5 separate regions of the Homo sapiens genome follow, and regions 1, 2, 4 and 5 are each linked to region 3. The links come from fine-mapping of genetic effects on gene expression. A gene starts in region 3. Each other region holds a variant in brackets. All regions are shown on one strand. Distances are from middle to middle.

Evidence for each region. PIP is the estimated chance that this variant, and not a neighbour inherited with it, causes the effect.
Region 1: its variant is fine-mapped to the expression of LIMK1 in whole blood (TOPMed, PIP above 0.99).
Region 2: its variant is fine-mapped to the expression of LIMK1 in whole blood (TOPMed, PIP above 0.99).
Region 4: its variant is fine-mapped to the expression of LIMK1 in CD8 T cells (CEDAR, PIP 0.92).
Region 5: its variant is fine-mapped to the expression of LIMK1 in whole blood (INTERVAL, PIP above 0.99).

What each region holds. Positions count from the first base shown.
Region 1 is chr7:74,110,963-74,115,078 of GRCh38, forward strand. It overlaps LIMK1 (LIM domain kinase 1), which reads left to right. Exons shown (of 16, transcript NM_002314.4): 11 at 686-745; 12 at 971-1,036. Among named protein-coding and RNA genes, the nearest start is that of LIMK1, 29 kb to the left of the region's middle. The variant T/C (reference allele first, on the strand shown) is at 2,384.
Region 2 is chr7:74,136,992-74,141,107 of GRCh38, forward strand. No RefSeq gene overlaps it. Among named protein-coding and RNA genes, the nearest start is that of EIF4H, 35 kb to the right of the region's middle. RefSeq lists an enhancer at 1,834-2,363. The variant C/T (reference allele first, on the strand shown) is at 1,861.
Region 3 is chr7:74,082,071-74,086,186 of GRCh38, forward strand. It overlaps LIMK1 (LIM domain kinase 1), which reads left to right and starts at 1,734. Exons shown (of 16, transcript NM_002314.4): 1 at 1,734-1,975; 2 at 3,678-3,774. The coding sequence starts at 1,921. RefSeq lists enhancers at 434-1,112, 1,108-1,217, 1,113-1,791, 2,278-2,547, 3,059-3,658 and 1 more and silencers at 1,488-1,757, 1,878-1,927, 2,038-2,087.
Region 4 is chr7:74,265,038-74,269,153 of GRCh38, forward strand. No RefSeq gene overlaps it. Among named protein-coding and RNA genes, the nearest start is that of RFC2, 13 kb to the left of the region's middle. RefSeq lists an enhancer at 1,248-1,297. The variant C/CTG (reference allele first, on the strand shown) is at 1,923.
Region 5 is chr7:74,130,764-74,134,879 of GRCh38, forward strand. No RefSeq gene overlaps it. Among named protein-coding and RNA genes, the nearest start is that of EIF4H, 42 kb to the right of the region's middle. RefSeq lists an enhancer at 2,300-3,087. The variant A/G (reference allele first, on the strand shown) is at 1,881.

The sequences.
Region 1 (4,116 bases), 29 kb after region 3:
CGGTGGCTCACGCCTGTAATGCCAGCACTTTGGGAGGCTGAGGCAGGTGGATCACTTGAGGTTAGGAGTTTGAGAACAGCCTGGCCAACATGGTGAAACCCTGTCTCTACTAAAACTACAAAAATTAGCTGGGTTTGGTGGTGGACACCTGTAATCCCAGCTACTTGGGAGGCTGAGGCGAGAGAATTGCTTGAGGCCGGGTGCAGTGGCTCATGCCTGTAATCCCAACACTGGGAGGCCAAGGTGGGCAGATCACCTGAGGTAAGGAGTTCAAGACCAGCCTGACCAACATGGTGAAACCCCGTCTCTACTAAAAATACAAAAAATTAGCTGGGTGTGGTGGCGCATGCCCATAGTCCCAGCTACTCAGGAGGCTGAGACACAAGAATCACTTGAGCCCCGGAGGCGAAGGTTGTAGGGAGCTGAGATGGTACCACTGCACTCCACCCTGGGTGACAGAGTGAGACTCCATCTAAAGAAAAAAAAAAAAGGAAATAATGTCTGTGAGCTGTGTTGACTCATACTCCTTAGAAGCAGACAGTTGTGGGTGCCCGAAGAAATCGGGGTGTTGGGGAGCCCAGGGACCCTCTAGGACGCTTGCCTCTTCCTGCCTCTGTCTCATGCAACCATCCCTGCCATCGGGGCCCCCACCGGCCCCACCCTGGCCATTCTTTCTCCATCCCAGGACAGCCAGTACCCATGGAGCCAGAGAGTGAGCTTTGCCAAGGACATCGCATCAGGGATGGTGAGTGAGCCGGGTGCTCTAGCTCCATTCATAATCCCACCAGGAATTTGCAAACAGAACCCACAAAGAAGCTTTGAAAGAGGGCAGAGGGGGTCGATGGGAGAGTGGGAAGAATCGTCCCGACTGGCCTGATTGGGGTGGGAGCAGAGGGAGTTCCTGGGGAGCCAGGATGGGCTGGGGTCCCTCTGCACAGCTGCCCCCTGACTCCCGTGTCCCCGTCCCTAGGCCTACCTCCACTCCATGAACATCATCCACCGAGACCTCAACTCCCACAACTGCCTGGTCCGCGAGGTGAGTACCAGGGCCCCACGTGGCTGGGTGTCAGGAGACAGCAGGAGCCCATCCAACCCCAGCCTCAGGGCCTTCCCAGAACTGGAGGCCCCTCCATGTTGCCTCCATGACTTCAATTTGAGGTGGGGGTGGGGGGCAGCAGCCCGTGGGGAAGAGCGCAGGGTCAGGAGGCAGACAGACCTGGGTTTGAGTCCTGTCTCTGCCACTGACTCATGGTGGACCATCAGAGTCCCAGGCTGGTAGGAGGGTCTCATAAATCAATGAAGGAGAAAGTGACATGTAAGCTACAAAGGACCAGGACCGTGGTCTTCATAGAGCACAGCCCATGGCAGAGTGGCCATGGGCTACACCAGACAGCACCAGCATCTGGGGGCCACAGAGTGGGGGCATAGGCGTATGGGCTGGAGTGGTCAGGGCAGGCTTCCTGAAAGAGGAGGCTTGGCCAGACACAGTGGCTCACACCTGTAATCCCAGCACTTTGGGAGGCCGAGGCAGGCGGATCACGAGGTCAGGAGATCGAGACCGTCCTGGCTAACATGGGCACTGTGGCTCACACCTACAATCCCAACACTTTGGGAGGCCGAGGTGGGTGGATCACTTGAAGCCAGGAGTTCAAGACCAGCCTGGCCAACATGGCTAACACGGTGAAACCCCATCTCTACTAAAAATATAAAAAATTAGCCGGGCGTGGTGGCAGGTGCCTGTAGTCCCAACTACTTGGGAGGCTGAAGCAGGAGAATGGTGTGAACCCGGGAGGCGGAACTTGCAGTGAGCCAAGATCGCGCCACCGCACTCCAGCCTGGGTGACAGAGCGAGACTCCATCTCAAAAAAAAAAAGAGGAGGCTTTAGGTGGATATTTAAGCAGGGGACGGGCAGGCAAAGAGCCCAGTGTCTAAGGATTGTCAAGGGAGGAGAGCCCGGTTCTCCACCAAAAGCACAGGAGCGAGTAACCATGCCCATCTGGAGAGGTGGTGTATTCGTGTCCTGGGGCTGCCATCATGAAGTACTGTGAACCAGATGGCTCAAAACAACAGAAATGTGCTGGGCACAGTGGCTCACACCTAAAATCCCAGCAATTTGGGAGGCCAAGGCAGGTGGATTGCTTGAGCTCAGGAGTTTGAGACCAGCCTGGGCAACATTACGAAAGCCCATCTCTGCCAAAAATACAAAACGGAATAGCCAGCCGTGGTGGCATAAGCCTATGGTCCCAACTACCTGGGAGGCTGAGGTGGGAGGATCACTTGAGCCTGGGAGGTAGAGGTTGCAGTGAGCCAAGATTGTGCTACTCTACTCCAGCCTGGGAGACAGAGCCAGACCCTGTCTCAAAAAAACAAAACAAAACAAGG[T/C]CAGGCACTGTGGCTCACGCCTGTAATCCCAGCACTTTGGGAGGCCGAAGTGGGTGGATCACTTGAAGCCAGGAGTTCAAGACCAGCCTGGCCAACATGGCAAAACCCTGTTTCTACTAAAAATTCAAAAATTAGCAGGCATGGTGGCGCATGCCTGTAATCCCAGCTACTCGGGAGGCTGAGGCAGGAGAATTGCTTGAACCCAGGAGGCAGAGGTTGTAGTGAGCTGAGATTATGCCACTGCACTCCAGCCTGGGTGATAGAGTCAGACACCGTCTCAAAAAAAAAAAAGCATCACATGGCAAGAGGGGCTGACAAGAGACCCCCAAACTGACCATTATACAGACCCACTCTTGTGATAACTAACCTGGTCCCTCAATAACCCATTAATCTGTTAATTCATACAGAGCCCTCATGACCCAATCACCTCTTACAGGCCCTGCCTCTTAATACCGTTAGAGTCAGGCCAGGCATGGTGACATGGGCCTGTAGTCCCAGCTAGTTGGAAGGCTAGGTGGGAGGATCCCTTGAGTCCAGGAGGTAAATGTTACAGTGAGCTCTGATTGTGTCACTGCACTCCAGCCTGGGCAACAGAGCGAGCCCCTGTTTTTAAAACAGCAACAAGCCAGGCACAGTGGCTCACGCCTGTAATCCCAACACTTTGGGAGACTGAGGCAGGCAGATCACTTGAGGTCAGGAGTTCAAGACCAGCCTCACCAACACAGTGAGACCCCTCTCTACTAAAAATACAAAAATTAGCTGGGCGTGGTGGTGGGTGCCTGTAGTCTCAGCTACTCATGAGACTGAGGCAGAATTGCTTGAACCCGGGAGGTGGAGGTTGCTGTGAGCCGAGATCACGTCACTGCACTCCAGCAACAGAGTGGGACTCCATCTCAAAAAAAATAAAAAATAACAGAGATCTGTGTTGGCTTACACCTGTAATCCCAGCACTTTGGGAGTCCAAGATGGGCAGATTGCTTGAGCCCAGGAGTTTGAGACCAGCCAGGCAACATGGCAAAAAAATAAAAAAATTTGTCTCTACAAAAAAATTAAAAAATTAGCTGGCATGGTGGTGAGTATCTATAGTACCAGCTACTCAGGAGGTGGAGGTGGGAGGATCGCTTGAGCCTGGGAAGTTGAGGCTGCAATGAGCTGTGTTCGTGCCACTGCACTCCAGCCTGGGCCACGGGAGGGAGACTCTGCCTCAAAAAAAAAAAAAAAAAATCAAACCCGAAAAGCAAAAAACATAGACCTCACCTGCTTATTGGGAATATTCAAGATAAAATTAGGCCAGGCACGGTGGCTCACGCCTGTAATCCCAGCACTTTGGGAGGCCGACGTGGGCGGATCACGAGGTCAGGAGATCGAGACCATCCTGGCTAACACGGTGAAACCCCGTCTCTACTAAAAATACAAAAAATTAGCTGGGCATGGTGGCAGGCGCCTGTAGTCCCAGCTACTTGGGAGGCTGAGGCAGGAGAATGGCGTGAACCTGGGAGGCAGAGCTTGCAGTGAGCTGAGATCGTGCCACTGCACTTCAACCTGGGCAATAGAGCAAGACTCCAACTCAAAAAAAAAAAAAAAAAGATAAAATTGGGCCAGGTATGGTGGCTTACTCCTGTAATCCCAGCACTTTGAAAGGCTGAGGCAGGTGGACCACTTGAGGCCAGAAGTTGAAGACCAGTCTGGGCAACATAGCAAGACCCTATCTCAATCAGTCAATCAACCTAAAT
Region 2 (4,116 bases), 55 kb after region 3:
TAAATCCTCCCACCTCAGCCTCCTGAGTAGCTAGGACTACAGGAGTGCACCACCATGCCCAGCTAATGTTTTTATGTTTTGTAGAGATGAGGGTCTCATTATGTTGCCCAGGCTCGTCTTGAACTCCTGGGCTCAAGTGATCCATCCTCCTGCCTCAGCTTCCCAAAGTGCTGGGATTACAGGTGTGAGCAAACATGCCCAGCCTAATATTATTAATACATCGTAGCTGTCCATATTTATAGGGTGCATGTGAAATTTTGTTATGTGCATAGAAGTGAGATTGTAGGAACCAAGGAAAAAACTTCTGCTTCACCTTCTGAAGGTTTGCTGATAAATCAGCTCACAAAAGGCAGATTAATTAGAAAAAGGGGGATACAAATTGCATTCACACGTATCTGGGGAGAACCACACCACAGCGTGATTACCCACCACCCCAAAGGCGTTCAGACGCTTATATACCATCTTCTTTTTTTTTTTAAGTAGAGACTGGGTTTTCGCCATGTTGCCAGGCTGGTCTTGAACTCCTGCACTCAAGTGATCTTCCCCTCTTGGCCTCCCAAAGTGGCGCTGGGATTACCGCCATGAGCCACTGTGCCTGGCACTATATACATATATATAGATATGTATACATATCTATATCTATAGATATCTATATATCTATATCTATATGTATACATATCTATATATATAGACATGTGTATATATATCTATAGATATCGATATCTATAGATATAGATATACTATCTTGCAGATACAGAAAGAATAGGGGTTTGGATCCTGGTAAAACAGGTTATGGCAGGGGGAAGAAAGAGGAATTCTATTGAGGGGACATAAAAGATTACTGGGGGCTAGGCAGAGTGGCTCATGCCTGTAATCCTAGCACTTTGGGAGGCCAAGGTGGGCAGATCACTTGAGGTCAGGAGTTCGAGACCAGCCTGGCCAACATGGCGAAACCCTGTCTCTACTCAAAACACAAAAATTAGCCAGTCATGGTGGCACATAGCTGAAATCCCAGCTACTCAGGAGGCTGAGGCAGGAGAATCACTTGAACCCAGGAGGAGGAAGTTGCAGTGAGCTGAGATGGCATCACTGCACTCCAGCCTGGGTGACAGAGTGAGACTCCATCTCAATAAAAATAAAAATAAAAATAAAAATAAACATTGCTGGGGAGAATGAATGGATTTAGGAACAGAGATTAACTTGTACATAATTCTCTTTGGAATTTCAATGAGCCTGAGGGAGACATTATCTTGCGGAAGAGTCTGTTCAGGTGTGGTTCCATTCTTGATTTTATAGAAAGGAGAAGAAAAAAAAACAATTGTTTTCCTTGTTGAGGGGGGATGTCTGGATCTTAGGCAGAGAAAGTAACTTCAACTTCATCCTGTGCTGTGGGGGAAAAGACGGTCTTTTAGACACAGTTTATCGTTACTGCTGCTTTTCCTGTGTTTGGCCTATACCTTCCTGCCTCTTTGAATGATGGGTAGACCAGAGTTTGTGAGTCAATTTGTATTAGCTGTGTGATCTGGAGCAAGCTACTGTTGTCAGAGGAGTTTGAACCACAGTGATTCCATCTTGAATAGGGGGTGGGTAAAATGAGGCTGAGACCTGCTGATATTGACAGGAGGCAGCCAATTGCCTAGGCCAATAGGGGCGGGTCCGCGGTGAAACCCCACCTCCAACCCGAAGACGGTTTAAAGCCTGAAACTGAAGGTACAAGTTTAAACCTTAGACCGGATTGAGAGCTTACCTTCCTGTTTGTCGCGCTTTCCTCTGATTGATCCCCACCCTTCGCCTATTTTACATATACCCACCCTTTCCTAATTGGTTTTCTACTCTTTCTTTTTTTTTTTGACAGAGTCT[C/T]GCTCTGTCACCCAGGCTGGAGTGCAGTGGTGCAATCTCGGCTCACTGCAATCTCCACCCCCCGGGTTCATGTCATTCTCCTGCCTCAGCCTCCCCAGTAGCTGGGACTACAGGCGCCTGCTACCACGCCCGGCTAATTTTTTGTATTTTTTAGTAGAGATGAGGTTTCACCGTGTTAGCCAGGATGGCCTCAATCTCCTGACCTTGTGATCTGCCCGCCTTGGCCTCCCAAAGTGCTGGCATTACAGGCATGAGCCACCGTGCCCGGCGGTTTTCTACTCTTTCATGACCACCTTTGAGTAGTGTCTTTGCTTTAACTCACCTCATTAGCATAAACTCCAGTGTGATCAAAAGGACTCATTATAAATAACAAAAGACATTCCTCCAACTCCTGGACTTAAGGGATCCCTCAAGCAAGCCTCAGCCTCCTGAATAGCTGGGACTACTCCTTTTTGCATACTCACAAGCCAATCAGCACACACTCCCCACCCTGTGCCTATAAAGGCTCCAGACTCAGTCAGCAGGGGAAAAGACGACCTGACTTCGGGGAAGGCAGCCTGCACTTCCCATCCCCTCTCCAGCTCCCCTCTCCACTGAGAGTCGCTTTCATTGCTCAATAAAATTCTCCACCTTCATCATCCTTCAATCGTCCGTGTAACTTCATTCTTCCTGGATGCTGGACAAGAGCTTGGGACCCAGTGAGTGAGGATACCCAGAAAGGCTGTCACACTGGGCCTTTGCCCTCGCCTGTGAAGGGCAGCTGTCCCCATGTGATGAGGCAAGGGGCCAGCTGATCTGCTGACATGTCACCATCTGTGGACAGCAGAACTAAAGGAGCACTGTAATAACACCCCCTCTGCAGCTTCGGGGACACGGGCACCCTCACCTAGGTGCTGCTGCTTTCCCCTCAAGGTGACATGCCTGCTCTGGCCATGGGCCCTGCATACAGCTTGCTCCTGTGTTGGTGCCTGGAGAAGCCAGCTGGCCAGATCCCACACTTAGTCACTTGTGTGCTCCCTCCTGCAAGGGGTTGAGCACAGGGGGCTGAGTAGATGGGGCATCCCTTCCATGAGTCCAGCGAAGGTGCCTAGAAAAACCCTGCATCACCACTGAGCTACTTTCCCAGGAGGTGAGGCATTCCCAGTCACAGGATGACACAGGAGGGTGGCACAAGACATAGGTGACAAAAAACCTTGCTGATAAAACAGGTTGCAGCAAAGAAGCCGGCCAAAACCCACCAAAACCAAGGTGGCGATGAAAGTGACCTCTGGTAGGCTGGGTGCGGTGGCTCAACGCCTATAATCCCAGCACTTTGGGAGGCCCAGGCGGGCGGATCACCTGAGGCCAGGAGTTTGAGACCAGCCTGACCAACATGGAGAAACTCCGTCTCTACTAAAAATACAAAAAATTAGCTGGGCGTGGTGGCACATGCTTGTAATCCCAGCTACTCAGGAGGCTGAGGCAGGAGAATTGCTTGAACCCGGGAGGCGGAGGTTGCAGTGAGCCAAGATCGTGCCATTGCATTCTAGCCTGGATGACAAGAGTGAAACTCCATCTCAAAAAATAGAAAGAAAGTGACCTCTGGTCGTCCTCACTGCTCATTATGTGCTAATTATAATATATTAGCATGCTAAAGACACTCCCATCAGTGCCATGACAGTTTAGAAATGCCGTGGCAACATCAGGAAGTTACCCTATATTGTCTAAAAAGGGGAGGAACCGGCCGGGCGCAGTGGCTCATGCCTGTAATCCCAGCACTTTGGGAGGCCAAGGCAGGTGGATTGCAAGGTCAAGAGTTCAAGACCAGCCTGGCCAAGATGTGAAACCCTGTCTCTACTAAAAATACAAAAATTAGCTGGGCATGGTGGCGGGCGCCTGTAATCCCAGCTACTCCAGAGGCTGAGGCAGGAGAATTGCTTGGACCCAGGAGGCAGAGGTAGCAGTGAGCTGAGATTGCACCATTGCACTCCAGCCTGGGTGGCAGAGCAAGACTCTGTCTCAAAAAAAAGTGGGGAGGAACCCTCAGTTCCAGGAATTGCCCGTGCCTTTCCCAGAAAATTCATGAATAATCCACCCTTGTTGGGCATGTAATCAAGAGATAACTATAAAAAATATCCAGCCAGCAACCTTAGGGGATGCTCTGCCTATGGAGTAGACATTCTTTGTTCCTTTACTTTCTTTTTTTTTTTTTTTTTTGTGAGATGGAGTCTCACTTTGTCATCCAGGCTGGAGTGCAGTGGTGCAATCTTGGCTCAC
Region 3 (4,116 bases):
CGCCTGTAATCCCAGCACTTTGGGAGGCCAAGGTGGGTGGATCACCTGAGGTCCAGAATTCGAGACCAGCCTGACCAACATGGAGAAACCCCGTCTCTATTAAAAATACAAAATTAGCCAGGTATGGTGGTGCATGCCTATAATCCCAGCTATTCCAGAGGCTGAGGCAGGAGAATGGCTTGAACCCGGGAGGTGGAGGTTGCTGTGAGCTGAGATCGCACCATTGCACTCCAGCCTGGGCAACAAGAGTGAAACTCCATTTCAAAAAAAAAAAAAGTTAGAAGAGACAGGGTTTCACTTCATTGCTTAAGCTGATCTCCAATTCCTGGCCCCACGTGATGCTCCCACCTTGGCCTCCCAAAGTGCTGGGATTATAGGTGTGAGCCACTGTGCCCAGCCTTCTTTCTCATGAGAAATTAAAAATTCTGGCCAGGCGTGGTGGCTCACACCTGTAATCCCAGCACTTTGGGAAGCCGAGGAGGGTGGATCACCTGAGGTCAGGAGTTCAGGACCAGCCTGGTCAACATGGTGAAACCTCATCTCTACTAAAAATACAAAAATTAGTCGGTCATGGTGGTGCACGCCTGTAATATCAGCTACTCGGGAGGCTAAGGTGGGAGAATTGCTTGAACCTGGGAGGTGGAGACTGCGGTGAGCCGAGATCCCGCCACTGCACTCCAGCCTAGGCAACAGAGCGAGACCGAATCTAAAAAAAGAAAAAAAAAATCTAGTATTTTCTTCCCACCCCACGTAATTGTTTTGCACCCAGGGGTGAGTGCCCCCCACTTTGCAGACGTGCCTAGACCTCTCCCCACAAACATGATGACTAGAGTTGGAGCTGGGCTAGCGCTGCCTCTTGTTCACTGGGTTCACGTGGGCACGTGGCTCCACTCCGGTCACTGCTTCCTGGGCAGAGGGATGACGTGGAAGGTAGACCTAGGGGGGACAGGGTTGCTTCCTGCCCATGTCCAGCATTCTAGAATTGTCCACATCTAGGCAGGGCGTTCCACCATCAGTGCTGGACTGGACCACCCAATTCCTTTGGACGCTTGACTCAGCCCAAACCCGTGCTCCCTCCAGGACCCTGGGCAGGGCAGCCCCAGCTCCAGGTAATCGGCACTGAGAAGAGTACACCTGTCACCGCCTGGCAGGGGCTCGCTCCTTTCTCTGGTGCTGCTCATTCGCGAGGCCTGAGACGCGGACCGTCACCTTCCCCGGGCCCAGCCTGGCCTCAATGCAGGCCTCAGAGAGAGGGACAAAACCCGGCCCGCCTCCCTCCCCTCCCCAAGGCGACCACCAGTGTCCTGGGGGTCCACAGGGCCTCTCCAGCTCTGATCCGAGTTCCCGGCTGCAGCTGGTTTGGGTCTGTGGGGGCCTCGCGCAGGGAAGCGGAGGCCCCTTCTCTAGGCTCCTACATCCTCCTGGCCTGCCCCAGCAGAGCTAGCGGCCCTCCGAGACAGCTGGGCCTCGCAGCTCCCAGCCGAGGCCTGTCGCTGGGAGAAAGAAGAATGAATGAAGGGCGGAAGGGGCGGGGAGGGGCGGGGCGCGCCGCGCCAGCTCGCGGCGCCCCCAGGCCGGGCCGCAGCGGGGCGTGGCCTCTAGAGGCGTGGCCTTGGGCGTGGGGGCGGGGTTTTCTGGTGGGGGCGGGGCCGCGCAGGGCCGTTCCCGCCGCCGGCCGCCCGCGCCCCGCCCCCGTGCCGCAGCTCACAGGCCCCGCCTCGGTCCGCCCCTCCGCTCGCTCCCCAAGCCGCCGCGGCGCCGAGCCGGTTTCCCCGCCGGTGTCCGAGAGGCGCCCCCGGCCCGGCCCGGCCCGGCCCGCGCCCTCCGCCCCCGCCTCCCCGGGCCGGCGGCGGTGGGCGAGCTCGCGGGCCCGGCCGCCCCCAGCCCCAGCCCCGCCGGGCCCCGCCCCCCGTCGAGTGCATGAGGTTGACGCTACTTTGTTGCACCTGGAGGGAAGAACGTATGGGAGAGGAAGGTGCGCGGGCCGCGGGGTGTGGGGCGAGGGCCTGGAGGGGGTGCCCGGGGCAGCGTGGGGCACGGGAGGGGGCCGGGTCTGCCAGGAGGCCGCGCCCCTGCCTCCTCCGGGATGAGCTCGTCCTTACGAAGCCCGCAGGCCCCTCCCTGTCCCCCTCCCGCCCGGGATCCCCCTCCCCGGCCCCCGGCGAGCTGCCCTCCTGCGGGTCTGGGGGCCCCTGGACCCTTTTTCCTCCTCCCACGTCCCCCCGCGAAGGACTCCCAGACACTGCCCACCCCGCGTCGGCCTCCATCCGCGTGCTCTGTCCACCACCCGGGCCTCGCCCTGGGGCCACCCTTTATCCAGTCTCGGAAGAAAGAGCGGCTGGGGAAGCCGCAGCCCCGGGTCCCAGTGGCCGCCGGGCGCCTGCCCGGCTCTGTGACCTTGAGCCAGGCGCTGACTTCCTGGTCCTCAGTTTCCCCTTCTGTACATTTGGAAACTGGGTAGTTGCCCCCCCGGTGTCGGTGATTGGGGGCCAGATGGGTAGAGCGGAGATAGGCGTCCAGGAAGCCGGAGGCCGTGTACTGCGGGAGCCTCATCCACTCTCCCTGTCCGTGCCCCAAACCCGGTGCCTGCCCTCAGTCTTGGCTGGGAGCATGACTCATCCTAACCTCCTCTTTAGCCCCTTCTCCCTCACTGGGGCCCAAGGCGCAGTACTGCACTGCAGTTAGGGTTCAAGGACTCCCCCAGCCTAGGACAGGGTCTGGGGGCCCCTCCTTGGATCTCCTTCGCTGACCTGTCACTTAGATCCACCTGGCCCCAAGGCAGGGCCTGACTCCACACCTCCCCCTGCCACCAACTCTTCCCAGGCCCATGAAAACCTGATTGGGGTAGGGGCCCACCTTCCTGTAGCCCCTGCCTACCTAAGGTACCTGCGTCTTCACAGAGGGTCAGGCTGTTGTGGCCTTGGGACCTAGCTATGTGACTGGGCAAGCCATGCCATCTCTGGGGCTCAGTCTCCCCTTCTGTACAGTGGAGAGGGGCAGGTCTGGGGCATTTTCCAGGGCCCACCAGCTCCAAGGGTGCCAGGCCCCAAGGATGACTAAGCATGCCTGTGGCTGGCTAGAGGAGGTGCCAGGCCTCCCTGGGACAGGTGTCTGGGAGTACCCAGGTCTGCAGCCCCCTCCCCTTGCCAAGCCAGGGCATTCATTGCCAAGGATCTGTTAGGGCCGGCACCTCCAGGCTTCCTGCCCTTGACCTCCCAGCTGGCTTCAGCCCAGGATGCACTAATCCAGCCCTGTCCAGTCCCTGCCTTTGAAGGGCCCTCTTAGTACTTCTTCCTGGGCAGGAGAGGGAAGAAAGGAGGCTGTGATAGGAATGTCACCCACTGCCTTATCCCTAAAGCCACTGCTTCCTTTCTCCTCATTTACCTTGCCAGATCCAATGCTATAGCGGGAGGATGGACCTGATCCTCCTCCTAAGCTGATACATAGGGAAACAGGGCCAGAGAAGCTTGGCAACCTAGTCAGTATCTCAGCAAGACTCAGGCCAGCGCCCTTTCTTCTCCTATTTGGCACAGCGACTGCCCTGCCTGGGCGCTGCACATGTGCAGTGTGCGAGGATTGGTGCAGGTGTAGGTATATGTGGGGTGGGCAGGGCAAGCTGGGCCTGCACCAGATCACACTTCCTGAGAATGCTTCCCAACTCCCTTCCCACCCTGCAGGAAGCGAGTTGCCCGTGTGTGCAAGCTGCGGCCAGAGGATCTATGATGGCCAGTACCTCCAGGCCCTGAACGCGGACTGGCACGCAGACTGCTTCAGGTAGGGTGGGGTGCCCAGGGCCTGTGTTGCCCTAAACAAGGCCTGCCAGAGAGGACAGGCTGGTCAAGGAATGGGGGAGGCCGGGATATGCCTCCTGGTGCCGTCCCCTATTGTGACTTCGTGGCCTTAATTTACCATTTATGACATGAGGTGTTTTGACTAGAAAATCCCTACAGGCCTTCCTGTTGTCATTTTATTTATCTATTTTTTTTTCTTTTTGAGACGGAGTCTCGCTCTGTCACCCAGGCTGGAGTACAGTGGTGCGATCTTGGCTCATTGCAACCTCTTCCTCCTGGGCTCACGCAGTTCTCCTGTGTCAGCCTCTGGAGTAGCTGGGATTAC
Region 4 (4,116 bases), 180 kb after region 3:
TTTGGCCTCCCAAAGTGTTGGAATTACAGGCGTGAGCCACTGGCCTGGTCTCTTGCCTTCTTTGAAAACGAAAAGGGTACAGGACTTTTCCTGATGGTATAGAGGTCAAATGTTTATGCATCATGATGTGGGCTGACCCCAGAGACGATGGATGGGAGACAGGCTGCTCCCCCCACACTATACGGCCTAGGTCATAGGCTGTTTGGATTCTTTACTTCTAATTTTAGTCTGTTTACTCATCTAAGCATTCCCTCCTTCCTGTCCTCAGTGAGCACATCAGCCCTGACCTTCCTGCAACCACTTTTTTTTTTTTTTTTTTTTGAGACAGAGTCTCGCTCTCTTACCCAGCCTGGGGTGCAGTGGTCCAATATCGGCTCACTGAAACCACTGCCTCCCGGGTTCAAGCGATTTTCCTGCCACAGCCTCCTGAGTAGCTGGGATTACAGGCGCCTGCCACCATGCCCAGCTAATTTTTTTTTTTTTTTTGAGACGGAGTCTTGCTCTGTCGCCAGGCTAGAGTGCAATGGCGCGATCTCGGCTCACTGCAACCTTTGACTCCCTGGTTCAAGTGATTCTCCTGCCTCAGCCTCCCGAGTAGGGATTACAGGCACGTGGCACCACGCCCAGCTAATTTTTGTACTTTTAGTAGAGACGGGGTTTCCCCATGTTGGCCAGGATGGTCTCGATCTCCTGACCTCGTGATCTGTCCGCCTCGGCCTCCCAAAGTGCTGGGATTACAGGCGTGAGCCACCGCACACCACCTAATTTTTGTATTTTTAGTAGAAATGGGGTTTCACCATGTTGGCCAGGCTGGTCTCGAACTCCTGACCTCAAGTGATCCGCCTGCCTTGGCCTCCCACAGTGCTGGGATTATAGGCATGAACCACCATGCCCGGTCACCTGTGGCCCCTTCTAAATCTGATGAGGGGTGGGGGACTAGAGAGCACCAAGCTCAGTTCATTTTATCCCATTTATCCCTCCACCAATGGTGGATGAGAGCCAAGAATGCATTTTTTTTGGTTTACTAATCTCCTGTGCAAATATATACATGTAAATATATCACAGTAATACATATTACATGTATACATATAAATATATTACATGCAATAGATATTACATGTATATATATAAATGTATTACATGCAATAGATATTACATGTGTATATATATGAGTGCTATTTCAATTTGCTTTTTTTGGAGACAGGGTCTCACTCTGTCACCTGCTGGAGTGCAGTGGTGCAATCACAGCTCAATTCAGCATCAACCTCCTGGGCTCAGGGGATCCTCCCATCTCAGCCTCCCCAGTAGCCAGGTCCACAGGCACACATCACCATGCCTGTATTTTTTGTAGAGATAGGGTCTTGCTATGTTGCCCAGGCTGGTCTTGAACTCCTGGACTCAAGCAATCCGCATGCCTCGGCCTCCCAAAGTGCTTGGATTATAGGCGTGAGCCACCGTGCCCAGCCTGTTTCAATTTTCATTGTCTTGTAGAGCATTTTACTATGTGTGTCGACCTTTTGTAGTTCCTCTTCTGTGACTTGTCTGCCCATTTTTCTTTTCTCTACAAATCGTACATTAAATTTGTCAGTTTCTAGCAATGCTTTAGAAGTATACACTCTTTGACCCAGAAGCCCGCTTTTAGAAACTTGTCTTACATAAATGCTTACACATGTGCACAAAGATATATATGTACTAGGATGTTCATTGCAGCAGCTTAGAATGGGGGAAGAGGGGAAGGAAATGAGATAAATGCCCATCAGTGTCAGAATGCATAGGTAAATTATGGTACATTCATACTATACAGTCACTGAAAAATGAAGGCTGTCTGCCTGTACTGACAGGGAAAGAGGTCTCTGTGACCCCTAAAAAAATACAGTCCAGAAAAAGCAGCATAGACTCCTGATAGAATCCTGTGTGTGTGT[C/CTG]TGTGTGTGTGTGTGTGTGTGTGTGTTTCCCTCAAGACAGAGTCTCGCTCTGTTGCCCAGGCTGGAGTGCAGTGGTGCGTGCGATCTTGGCTCACTGCAACCTCCGCCTCCTGGGTTCAAGCGATTCTCCTGCCTCAGCCTCCCGAGTAGCTGGGATTACAGGCGCACACCACCACCAGGCCGGGGTAATTTTTTGTATTTTTAGTAGAGACAGGGTTTCACCATGTTGGCCAGGCTAGTCTTGAACTCCTGACCGCGTGATCTGCCTGCCTAGGCGTCCTAAAGTGCTGGGATTACAGGGGTGAACCACCACGCCCGGCTGTTTTTTTTTTTTTTTTTTTTAATGTTTCTTTGGGAGGCTGAGGTGGGAAGACCACTTGAGCCCAGGAGTTCCAGAGTAGCCTGGGCAACATAGCAAGGCTCTGTCTCTATAAAAAATAATTTAAAAAAATTATTAGGCCAGGTGTGGTGGCTCATGCCCGTAATCCCAGCACTTTGGGAGGCTGAGGTGGGCAGATCACTTGAGGTCAGGAGTTTGAGACCAGCCTGGCCAACATGGCGAAACCCCGTTTCTACTAAAATACAAAAATTAGCCAGGCTGAGGCACGAGAATTGCTTGAACCTGGGAGGCAGAGGTTGCAGTGAGCCAAGATCATGTCACTGCGCTCTAGTCTGGTGACAGAGTGAGACTCTGTATTAAAACAAAAAAAATTAGGTGTGGTGGTGTGTGCCTGTAGTCCCAGCTACCTGGGAGGCTGAGGCAGGAGGATTGTTGGAGCCCAGGAGTTCAAGACCAGCCTGGGCAACATGACAAGACCCCATCTCTAACAACAACAACAAAAATTAGCTGAGCATGGTAGCATGTGCCTGTGGTCCCAGCGACTTGGGAGGCTGAAGTGGGAGGATTGCTTGACCCCAGGAGGTCAAGGCTGCAGTAAGCCATAATTGCACCACTACATTCCAGAGCCTGGGCAACAGAATGAGAGCATATCTTTAAAAAAAAAAAAAAAAAAAAAATGCAGGGTCAGCGGGCTGTGAGTGGGGATTGAGGACTTTCCTACCAGAAACCTGAGTGCCCCAGCATGCCCTTTTTAGGCTGTTTAGCAGGTCGGGGTTTTTTTCTTCTTCTTCCTGATGGGTTATCTGTGACATGAGATATTTTGACAGCGAGCCCACTTTAAGCTAAGAAGTTCTATACTGAAAAAAAAACAAACATCTACATGTCCACGCAGGATCAGTTAGGGAGTGATTAACTGCGTATAAGAAAAGATGACACCTCACCTAAGTAGCTTGACATTCCTTTTCAACAGCAATCTCATTATTCTCAAAACAAGGTTGTATCCACCATTCCAACACCATATCCACTGGAAATACAGCGGTGCACCTCGGTCTAATCTGGCCAGCTGGTGCTCCAATTTGGGAGGTGTATTTTATGTTCCTAACCCCAGAAATCTCCAAGTGTGGGTTTCATTACCTGTAGAAGGTGCCGTGGGCATTTTAAACCATGCTCTGTTTTTAGCACGCCTGCTTCTGTGCAGACACGCTCACCACATTCTTCGGGAAGCCCTGAGAGTGTCTATTCCAAGAAGGTCGTATCTCACAGGTAGAAATGTTTTCCTCGTACCTGAGGCTGTTGGATGCTGGGTGTCATTCTGAAAATCCTAAACCAGGCTGGGCAGCATACACCCACAGTCCCAGCTACTTGGGAGGCTGAGATAGGGGGTGGGGGGTATTGCTTGAGCCCAGGAGTTCGAGGTTGCAATGAGCTCTGATAGCACCACCGCACTCCAGCCTGGGTGATCCAGCACGGCCCTTCTCAAAATCAAAACAAAACAAAACAAAAAAAGGCCAGGCACGGTGGCTCATGCCTGTAATCCCAGCACTTTGGGAGGCCAAGGTGGGTGGATCACAAGGACAGGAGTTCAAGACCAGCCTGACCAACATGGTGAAAACCCCGTCTCTCACTAAAAACACAAAAATTAGCTGGGCATGGTCGCGGGTGCCTGTAATCCCAGCTACTTAGAAGGCTGAGGCAGGAGAAACGCTTGAACCTCCCCCTCCAAGGTTCAAGCGGTTCAAAAAAAAAAAAAGGAAAATTCTGAATCTTTGAGATTCCAACCAAGACAACAATTTATACTCCAGGGACTATCCTAGGTTCAGGGATGCACTGCGCAGGCTGTGGGGTGAGAGGGTG
Region 5 (4,116 bases), 49 kb after region 3:
AAATAAAAATGTTTTAAAAGCTGCAGAGTTAACACAGTAGAGAAATCATGTGCATATAAAATATGCTACGTTTCCTTCTGGGATTGGTCCAAAACTGCTCACAAAAAACTTCAAAACTCTACTTTAAGAAGTTCCAGGCCGGGCACGGTGGCTCACGCCTGTAATCCCAGCACTTTGGGAGGCCGAGGCAGGCGAATCACAAGGTCAGGAGTTCGAGACCAGCCTGGCCAACATGGTGAAACCCCGTCTCTACTAAAAATACAATAAAAATTAGCTCAGCATAGAGGCGTGCGCCTGTAATCCCAGGTACTCGGGAGGCTGAGGCAGGAGAGTCACTTGAACCTGGGAGGCGGAGGTTGCAGTAAGCCAAGATCGCGCTACTGCACTCCAGCCCAGGCGACAGAGCGAGACTCTGTCTCAGGAAAAAAAAAAAAAAAAGAAGCTCCAATACCAAATTAAAGTCGTTTTTCAAGTATTGGTAAATCTTCCATAAACAGGGCAACACTTAATGATCAATAGATCATTCGACTAGGGCTTATGCTGGTGGATCTCTTTTGTTTAAAGCTCCAAACTCAGCTGGGCTTGGTGCTTCACGCCTGTAATCCCAGCACTTTAGGAGGCCAAGGCAGGTGGATCACCTGAGGTCAGAAGTTCGAGACCAGCCTGGCCAACATAGTGAAACCCCCGTCTGTACTAAAAATACAAAAATTAGACAGGCGTGGTGGCACAGAAAAAAAAAAGTCAATTATCCTATTTGGGGATTTAAATTATACTATTTTTTATTTTTTTGAGACAGAGTTTCACTCTGTCACCCAGTCTGGAGTGCAGTGGTACAATCTTAGCTCACTGCAACCTCCACCTCCTGAGTTCAAGCGATTCTCCTGCCTCAGCCTCCCGAGTAGCTAGGATTACAGGCACCAGCCACCACCTGGCTAATTTTTGTATTTTTTGTAGAGACGGGGTTTCACCATGTTGGCCAGGCTGGTCTCAAACTCCTGGCCTCAAGTGATCTGCCTGCTTCGGCCTCCCAAAGTACTGGGATTACAGGAGTGAGCCACCACACCACCTCGACCAGCCTTTTCCTCTATAAATTTAAAAAAAAAAAAAGGCCAGGTGCGGAGGTTCATGCCCGTAATCCCAGCACTTTGGGACGGATCACTGTAATTCCAGCTACTCAGGAGCCTGAGGCAGGAGGATCACTTGAACCCAGGAGTCGGAGGTTGCAGTGAACCAAGATTGCTCCACTGCACTCCAGCCTGGGCAACAGAGCAAGACTCCAGCTCAAAAACAAAGAAAAAAGAAAAAGGCCAGGTAAGGTGACTTACATCTGTAATCCCAGTACTTTGGGAAGCTGAGGCAGGAGGATTGCTTGAGCCCAGGAGTTCAAGGCTACAGTAAGCTAGTAAGCTATGATTGCACCACTGTGCTGCAGCCTGGGTGACAGAGCCAGACCCTGTCTCATGAAAAAAAAAAAAAAAAAAAAAAAAAAGAAAAGAAAAGAAAGGAAGAAAAGTGCCAAATTGTTTCTCAAAGCAGTTCTAGTGATTTATGGTCTCACTTGCAGTATATCAGATTCTTCGTTGTCCAGATCTTTTTAATTTTTTACAGACTAACAGGTACAATACAGTATCTTACTGTGGTACTAATTTGAGTTTCCCTGATTTCCTCTATAGTTGAGCATCTTTACGTGTTTAGTGGCCACTCATGTTTCTTCAGATCTTCTGCCTGCCTTCCTCCCTCCCTTCCTCCCTCCCTTCCTCCCTTCCTCCTTCCCGCCCTCCCTTCCTTTTTTTTTTTTTTTTTTTTTTTTTTGAGACGGAGTCTTGCTCTGTCGCCCAGGCTGGAGTGCAGTGGCGGGACCTCAGCTCACTACAAGCTCC[A/G]CCTCCCAAGTTAAATCGATTATCCGGCCTCAGCCTCCTGAGTAGCTGGGACTACAGGCGCCCGCCACCACGCCCAGCTAATTTTTTGTATTTTCAGTAGAGACAGGGTTTCACCGTGTTAGCCAGGATGGTCTCGATCTCCTGACCTCATGATCCGCCCACCTCGGCCTCCCAAAGTGCTGGGATTACAGGCGTGAGCGTGAGCCACCGCGCCCGGCCCCTTCCTTCTTTTTTTTTAAAAAGAGAGACGGGTGCTCCCTTTGGCAGCAGATATACTAAAAAAGAGAGACGGGAAGGCCAGGCACAGTGGCTCACACCTGTAATCCCAGCACTTTGAGAGGCCGAGGCTGGTGGATCACCTGAGGTCAGAAGTTCGAGACCAGCCTGGCCAACATGGTGAAACCCCATCTCTACTAAAAATACAAAATTAGACGGGTGTGGTAGTGCATGCCTGTAATCCCAGCTACTCAGGAGGCTGAGGCAGGAGAATCAATGAACCCGGGAGGCGAAAGTTGCAGAGAGATGAGATTGTGCCATTGCATTCCAGCCTGGGCAACAAGAGCGAAACTACGTCTCAAAAAAAAAAATGCATAAGTTTTGTGAACAAATATTTCATAATTTTCTCTACTGAGGTCTTAGACTTTTTTTTTTTACATTTTACAGAATACTTCATATCTTCTTTGTCTCTCCCCTTTTTTTTTGCAATCACCTTGAAAACATTAAGATTCAGATGGTCCTCTAATTTTCCTGTCTCCTGTTATCCTTTGTGGTGTGTGTGTGTGTGTGTGTGTGTGTGTGTGTGTGTGTGTGTGTGTGTGTTTGAGACAGAGTCTCACTCTGCTGGACAGGCTGCAGTAGAGTGATGGCATCTCGGCTCGCTGCAACCTCCGCCTCCTGGGCTCAAGTGATTCTCCTGCTTCAGCCTCCCGAGTAGCTGGGATTATCGGCATGTGCCACCACCCCTAGCTAATTTTTGTATTTTTAGTAGAGACGGGGTTTCACCATGTTGGCCAGGCTGGTTTCAAACTCTTGACCTCAAGTGATCTGCCCACCTCAGCCTCCCAAACTGCTGGGATTACAGACATGAGCCACTGCGCCCAGCCTGTTATCCTTTGTTTTTGGAAGGAAGCATTTGAAAAAGAGTGACTCTATCTTGAATAGGGGCTGGGTAAGATGAGGCTGAGACCTGCTGGGCTGCATTCCCAGTAGGTGAGACATTCTTATTCACAGGATGAGACAGAAGGTTGGCAGGACTGGTATCACAAGATACGGGTCACAAAGACCCTGCTGATAAAACAGGATGCTGACAGGGCACAGTGGCTCACTCCTGTAATCCCAGCATTCTGGGAGGCTGAGGCGGGCAAATCACTTGATGCCAGGAGATCAAGACCAGCCTGGCCAACATGGTGAAACCCTGTCTCTACCAAAAATACAAAAATTACCCAGACATGGTGGCAGGCACCTGTACTCCCAGCTACTCAGGAGGCTGAGGCAAGAGAATTGCTTGAACTCGGGAGGCAGAAGTTGCAGTGAGCCAGGATCGCACCACTGCACTCCAGACGGGGCAACAGAGCGAGACTCCATCCCAAAAAAAAAAAAAAAAAAGAAAACAAAAACAGGACGCAGTAAAGAAGCCAGCCCCAAAACCCACCAACAGTGATGAAACTGACCTCTGGTCATCCTCACTGCTCATTATACACTAATTATAATACATTACCATGCTAAAAGACACTCCCACCAGGACTATGACAGTTTACAAGTGCCACGGCAACACCCGGAAGTTACCCTATATGGTCTAAAAGAAGGAAGAACCCTCAGTTCTGGGAAATCCCTGCCCTTTCCTGGAAAACTCATGAATAACCCATACTTCGTTTAGCATAGAATGAAGAAATAACTGTAAGTATACTCAGTCAAGCAGCCCATGCCACTGCTCTGCCTATGGAGGAGTCACTCTTTATTCCTTTCCTATTCTTTTTTTTTTTTTCTTTTTCGAGACAGAGTCCCGCTCTGTTGCCCAGGCTGGAGTGCAGTGGCACAATCTTGACTCACTGCAACCTCTGCCTCCCAGGTTCAAGCAATTCTCCTGCCTCAGCCTTCCGAGTAGCTGGAATTACAGGTATGCACCACCACACCCAGCTAATTTTTGTATTTTTAATAGAGATGGAGTTTCACCAGGTTGGCCAGGCTGGTCTCGAACTCCTGACCTCAGGTGATCCACCTGCCTCAGCCTCCCAAA